2 linked regions of the Homo sapiens genome follow. The protein of the gene in region 2 interacts with the protein of the main gene of each other region in a biochemical or structural test. Each region holds a gene or a part of one and is shown on either strand. Other genes may lie near its edges. The genes, in order: EZR and ICAM1.

Region 1 (3,815 bases), on a different chromosome or scaffold from region 2:
CCCTGGAGCGGCTGCTCCGTCAGGCAGCTCAGGCTGGCAGCAGGCTAGGGTGGCCCTCAGGATACCAAGTCCATCCTGGAGCTTCAAGTACCCGTGAAGTGTGTTGACCCCTCACTTTCCTGCCAGAGTCTAAATCTCCCTGTGCCTCTTTTTCCCTGCACCAGGCAACAGCTGGAAACAGAGAAGAAAAGGAGAGAAACCGTGGAGAGAGAGAAAGAGCAGATGATGCGCGAGAAGGAGGAGTTGATGCTGCGGCTGCAGGACTATGAGGAGAAGACAAAGAAGGCAGAGAGAGGTCAGGCGCCCTGGGGCTGGCACTCTACACTGGGTCATGCATTTCCACAGAGTAGCAGGGGCCACACCCACCCACCCACTCACCAGGAAGGAAACCAAGAACGTGTCCCACAGCGCAGACTCACAGCCGAAATGATAAAATGGTTATTTGGTTTGGAAAACAGTTCTGTACTTATTTAACTTTGATGCTAGTTGTTCTAAGACTTTGTATTTTAAAATTTCCCTAGTCTTTTGCGGTAAGTGCTCAATCACCCAGTTTCCCCGATGAGGACAGTAAGGTTTGGTGCGGTACAGTGATTTGCCCACAGTCCCCCAGCCCATGACTGACAGGGCCATGCTGCACTGCCCTCGACCTCTAGACTAAAACCCAAAGGCGTGTTCAGAGCCAGACTTCCCAGCACAGCTCCAGTCAACAACCCCAGCAGCTGGGCCGATTACACAAGGCGCCACAGATGCTGTATTCACTGGCAGCCCTTACAGCACACATGGGAAGGGTGTTCTGTGTTCTGAGTGGAGTGTGGACCACCAGCACAGCGGGCGGCTGACCTGGGGAGAGTAGCGCCAAGAGGGTTGAGTCAGGCATGCCAGAGAGAGGGCGCCTGGCTGGCGTTGGACGGGTTTCTAGCCATCTTGAGGAAGTTGTCATGGATACAGCAGCAATGAGCTCTGTGAAGTGCTTTCCTCCAGGGTCACTGGAAGACATCCCCTCAACCTGTGACTTGGTCTAGGGCTCTGTGGCTTTGGGGGTGGGAATGGAAAGCGAGGGCTCCTAGGTCCCTGGGCTGAGGGTTTGAATGGCTCTGGCTTTGTGTCTTTGCAGAGCTCTCGGAGCAGATTCAGAGGGCCCTGCAGCTGGAGGAGGAGAGGAAGCGGGCACAGGAGGAGGCCGAGCGCCTAGAGGCTGACCGTATGGCTGCACTGCGGGCTAAGGAGGAGCTGGAGAGACAGGCGGTGGATCAGATAAAGAGCCAGGAGCAGCTGGTAGGAATGGCCTGAGTTTCAAGATGCTGAATTATAGAGAGGCTGCTTCTGAGGATGGAAAATGTGACACCTGCCTTGTAATAATTGTCATGACTGGAAGCTGTAAACTGATCTGCTGGGGGGCTGAAGGCAGCTGGTGGGGAAGGGGCTGGGCTGTTGCCAGGGTCACCCATTGAAGGTGGGTGTGGGCATCCAGGAAGAGATGCCGGGGGTGCACAATGGACCCTGCTGGCCATGGAGTGGGGGTGGCGGGGACTCAGGTGTCACGTTGGAGACTGCTTGCCAACACACATGAACACTCATTCACAACTGGACTCCGTTGAAAGGATATCAGAACTGACGTGAGCTTGGCATTCCCTTCCCAGGCTGCGGAGCTTGCAGAATACACTGCCAAGATTGCCCTCCTGGAAGAGGCGCGGAGGCGCAAGGAGGATGAAGTTGAAGAGTGGCAGCACAGGGTGAGTCTGCACGGGGGACACCTCCGCACGGCCACAGCACCTGTTGCCCAATTGCCTGCGGTGGGGCCCTTCTGCAGGTGGGTGGGTTGGGGGAGAGGTCTGGCTCAAGCTGCCACATCCCACTGGAAGCTTCTGGGATGTCTCATGATCCTCTGCCAATACCAGCTGTACTACTGAAGTAGACATCCCCAAAGAGATGGGTTTGACTTTGTACACGAGTCAGTGCAGCTGCTGGATTCATAGAGGGAGGACCTCTGATTGACTTTCACCCACTTTGCTCCCTCCACCCCGAACTGTTCAGTGCTGATCTGACAGCCCCCGGTCAGGAACTGGTTTTAAATCTAATTATATATGTGCCCCTTGCAATGGGGTCGCAGTGCCTGAAACACGACCTCCTGCAGCTAGTATATACAGCGGGCACCATGGAAAGATCCAGCTCCTTGGACGTCTCCAGGCTGGAGTGAGAGCTGGGCTCTGCTGCTCATCAGCTATTTGGGGGCTAGTAGCATCACTTCTTCAAGCCTCATTTTCCTCATTGTAGAATGGGGGCAATACCCAACTCATAAGGTTGCTCTGCAGATGCGAGGTCCCATGCCCAGGACCTAGCACAGAGGTTTAGTCAGCTGTAGCTCTCATTGTGGGACGCACACAGAGCTTGTCGCTCCGTCTGGGATCCCCTGTGCCCTCCAGGAAGGCACAGCCCCTGAGAAGCTCTGGGGATGGTTCCCACTGGAGACTGCACACCAGGCTTTAAGCAGCTCCTCTCCTTCACAGACCCGCTGGCCCGTCCTTCCCCCACTGTGGCTTCTCCATCTGTGGAGGTGCCTTCTGGGGACGTGTCTCCCGGCTCTCCAGGGCTGCTGCTGCCTAGTACCTCCTTGCCTCTGTTCCAGCCCCCATTCCCGCTGCCGATCTGTATTAGGCTGTTCTCACAACGGCTATAAAGAACAAGCTGAGACTGGGTAGTTAAAGAAAAGAGGTTTAATTGACTCACAGTCCCACATGGCTGGGGGAGGCCTCAGGAAATTTACAATCGTGGCAGAAGGCGAAGGGGAAGCAGGCACCTCTTACATGAGGGCAGAAGAGAGAAAAGCAAAGGGGGGTAATGCCAAACACTGAAACCATCAGCTCTTGCTCAGAACCCACCCACTAGCACGAGAACAGCATAGGGGAAACCACCCCGTAATCCAGTCACCTCCCACCAGGTAATGCCCCCCACCCCCAGCATGGGGGGATTACAGGTGGAGATGAGATTTGGGTGGGGACACAGCCATATCACCATCCCAAGTTGCAAGCGGAAGACTTTGGTTCTTAGGTTTTTGGAGAAAGTACCTGTTAAGTGAGGAGAGCTGGCTACAAAGCAGATCCACACTAAGCTCAACTCTAGGGCTGGCTGGGATGGAGGCGGGCGGGACTGGGTGTGTGTGAAGCTGTTGGAAGGACTGCAAGTGGCGAGCAGGAGAGCACTTGATAATGACTGTGGCATGAAGGGAGGCTAGGAACAGAGCCCGTTACTCATGCTAACAGGATTTTTTTTCTAAAAATTATATAATGTCTAGAGTTACAGGTAAAAAAAGAAATGGTAGTTTTAAAACTGCCCAGGTTCCGGCATCACAGTTCCTCTTCCTGTCTTGGACGCAGAGGGTTGTAAACCCCCCATGCACCCTGAGGGTGCTCCTCTTCGAAGCCACAGCCCAGCACAGTTCAGTGCTGCCTTAGCCTGCCAGGACAGAGGGAGGTGACAGTCTGTTCTCATAGCCAGGAGGATAGGACTTCTGGGTGAGAAGTCCTCTTATTAATTTGCTTTCCAAAGGCCAAAGAAGCCCAGGATGACCTGGTGAAGACCAAGGAGGAGCTGCACCTGGTGATGACAGCACCCCCGCCCCCACCACCCCCCGTGTACGAGCCGGTGAGCTACCATGTCCAGGAGAGCTTGCAGGATGAGGGCGCAGAGCCCACGGGCTACAGCGCGGAGCTGTCTAGTGAGGGCATCCGGGATGACCGCAATGAGGAGAAGCGCATCACTGAGGCAGAGAAGAACGAGCGTGTGCAGCGGCAGCTGCTGGTGAGGCCCAAGGGGCT
Region 2 (3,313 bases):
CTGTCGCCCAGGCAGGAGTGCAGTGGTTCGATCTGGGCTCACTGCAAGCTCCGCCTCCCGGGTTCACTCCATCCTCCTGCCTTAGCCTCCTGAGTAGCTGGGACTACAGGCGCCCACCACCACGCCTGGCTAATTTTTTGTATTTTTAGTAGAGACGGGGTTTCACCGTGTTAGCCAGGATGGTCTTGATCTCCTGACCTCGTGATCCGCCCGCCTTGGCCTCCCAAAGTGCTGGGATTACAGGCGTGAGCCACCATGTCTGGCCTGGCCAGGCTGGTCTTGAACTCCTGACTTCCGGTGATCCATCTGTTCTGGCCTCCCAAAGTGCTGGGATTACAGGCATAAGCCACCACGCCATGCCGAAGCCCAGCTTGTTTTTAATTTTTTTTTTTTTTTTTGGAGAAATGAGGTCTTGCAATGTTGCCCAAGCTAGCCTTGAACTCCTGGCCTCAAATGACCCCGCCTTGGCATCCCAAAGTACTGGGATTACAGATGTGAGCCACCATGCCCCAGCCTTGCTTTCTTGAGATACGATTTAGAATACCATAAGATTCATCCCTTTTAAGCACATAATTCAATGACTTCTGTACAAACAACCATGACTACAATCTAATTTTAAAATATTTCAATCACTCTAAAAAAGAAACCTCCTGCTTATGTACAGCGACTCTGTCTACCTCTTAAGTGAATTCTCCTACCTTTAATAGCCCTATTTTACAGTTCAGGAAACTGAGGTTCAGAGAGACAAAGTCACTTACCCACAGCAAAGAAGCAAGGCTGGGTATCAAATGCAGGACCCCCCCGGTCCTGATGCTTTTTTTTTTTTTTTTTTTTTCCTCTGAGAGAGACTCTCACTCTGTCACTCAGTCTAGAGTACAGTGGCGCGATCTCAGTTCACTGCAATCTCTGCCTCCTGGGCTGAAGTAATCCTTTCCTCACAAGTAAACCTCAGCCTCTCAAGTAGCTGGGACTACAGGCACACAACACCACGCCTGGCTAATTTTTGTATTTTTAGGTAGAGACGGGGTTTCACTATATTGGCCAGGCTGGTCTTGAACTCCTGACCTCAGGTGATCCGCCTGCCTCGGCCCCCCAAAGTGTTGGGATTACAGGCGTGAGCCACCACACGCAGCCTTTTTGTTATTAGACTCTGTCATTACTGACTTTTTTTTTTTTTTAATAGAAACAGGGTCTTTCTTTCCCAGGCTAAAGTACAGTGGCATGATCACAGTTCACTATAGCCTTAAACTCCTGGGCTCAAGTGATCCTCCTGCCTCAGCCTCCCAAGTAGCAGGGACTACAGGTGTGCACCACCACACCCAGTTAACCATTCATTCATTCATTCATTCATTTATTTTGAGATGGAGTCTCGCTCTGTCACCTAGGCTGGAGTGCAGTGGCACGATCTCAGCTCACTGCAACCTCCACCTCCCAGGTTCAAGAGATTCTCCTGCCTCAGCCTCCCGAGTAGCTGAGACTACAGGCGTGCACCACCATGCCAGACTAATTTTTGTATTTTTAATAGAGACGGGGTTTCACTCTGTTGGTCAGGCTTATCTCGAACTCCTGACTTCGTGGATCCACCCTCCTTGGCCTCCCAAAGTGCTGGGATTAAAGGCGTGAGCCACCGCGCCCTGCCAACCTTTTTTTAATTTTTCTTAGAGATGGGGGTCTCCCTATGTTGCCCAGGCTTGTCTTGAACTCCTGGCCTCAAGTGACCCTCTTGCCTTGGCCTCACAAAGTGCTAGGATTACAGCCTGAGCCATCACACCTGGCCAACAGGTTTTTTTTTTTGTTTTGTTTTGTTTTTTAAAGAATGTCTAGGCCAGGCTCATTTACTTTCACCTGTAATCCCAGCACTTTGGGAGGCCGGGGTGGGCAGATCACTTGAGGTCAGGAATTCGAGACCAGCCTGGGCAACATGCTGAAACCCCGTTTCTACTAAAAATACAAAAATTAGCTGGGTGTGGTGACACGTGCCTGTAATCCCAGCTACTCAGGAGGTTGAGGCAGGAGAATTGCTTGAACCCAGGAGGCAGAGGTTGCAGTGAGCCAAGATCATGCCATCACCCTCCAGCCTGGGCGACAGAAGGAGACTCAGTCTAAAAACTTAATTAATTAATTAATTAAAAATAAAAATACAAAAATTAACCTGGTGTGGTGGTGTGTGCCTGTAATCTAAGCTACTCAGGAGGCTGAGGCAGGAGAATCCCCTGAATCCCAGAGGCAGAGGTTGCAGTGAGCCAAGATCGAGCCACTGTTTGCCCAGTCTAGTGCACTGGGCTGCTGAATTTATTTGACCAGACACCTAGCAATAGACTTTGAAGTTCTTTTCCACTTTTCACTCTAAGATGCTGCTGTCATGAATAAGGAATATTTTGATCCCCTTCACAAACACTCGGGGCCCTCTTACCAGTTTTCACTGAAGATCTTGACATTCCTATCTGCTTAGGTGTCTGGGCGTGTTTGGGGGAGATACTGAAGAGGTAGGGCTCCCAGGCAGGTGCAGTTCGTCTGTTAGGCAGGCAGCAAGGTCCACTTCACCAGACACCCCCACCTCTGTTTTCCTGCAGGGACTCCAGAACGGGTGGAACTGGCACCCCTCCCCTCTTGGCAGCCAGTGGGCAAGAACCTTACCCTACGCTGCCAGGTGGAGGGTGGGGCACCCCGGGCCAACCTCACCGTGGTGCTGCTCCGTGGGGAGAAGGAGCTGAAACGGGAGCCAGCTGTGGGGGAGCCCGCTGAGGTCACGACCACGGTGCTGGTGAGGAGAGATCACCATGGAGCCAATTTCTCGTGCCGCACTGAACTGGACCTGCGGCCCCAAGGGCTGGAGCTGTTTGAGAACACCTCGGCCCCCTACCAGCTCCAGACCTTTGGTGAGGATTGAAGAAGCCAGCAGGGAGAAGGTGGGGGTGGGGTATCCTGCAATGCGGTGCCTGTGGCCACAGGATCTTTTGAGATGGGTGTGGCCCCGGCTAAGGGGTGCATGTGTTCTAGGCGTATGTGACCTAGGCTGCTGAGTGGCCCTGGAAGAGGATCTCGCAGGAGGGGGAATGAAATGCCCCAGAGAAGGGCTTCGGGACGTCCATCCCTGTCTGCTCACACCTTTCTTCTCTCCCTAGTCCTGCCAGCGACTCCCCCACAACTTGTCAGCCCCCGGGTCCTAGAGGTGGACACGCAGGGGACCGTGGTCTGTTCCCTGGACGGGCTGTTCCCAGTCTCGGAGGCCCAGGTCCACCTGGCACTGGGGGACCAGAGGTTGAACCCCACAGTCACCTATGGCAACGACTCCTTCTCGGCCAAGGCCTCA

Evidence for each region.
Region 1: the proteins of ICAM1 (region 2) and EZR form a complex in vitro, tested with the Homo sapiens proteins (one study listed by BioGRID).

The regions. Positions count from the first base shown.
Region 1 is NC_000006.12:158,767,244-158,771,058, reverse strand, and holds part of EZR (ezrin), read left to right. Parts: intron 1-164; coding exon 165-295; intron 296-1,114; coding exon 1,115-1,275; intron 1,276-1,640; coding exon 1,641-1,733; intron 1,734-3,546; coding exon 3,547-3,798; intron 3,799-3,815. UniProt on the Homo sapiens protein: Probably involved in connections of major cytoskeletal structures to the plasma membrane. In epithelial cells, required for the formation of microvilli and membrane ruffles on the apical pole. Along with PLEKHG6, required for normal macropinocytosis.
Region 2 is NC_000019.10:10,280,908-10,284,220, forward strand, and holds part of ICAM1 (intercellular adhesion molecule 1 precursor), read left to right. Parts: intron 1-2,413; exon of another isoform or gene 2,414-2,543; intron 2,544-2,573; coding exon 2,574-2,879; intron 2,880-3,125; coding exon 3,126-3,313. UniProt on the Homo sapiens protein: ICAM proteins are ligands for the leukocyte adhesion protein LFA-1 (integrin alpha-L/beta-2).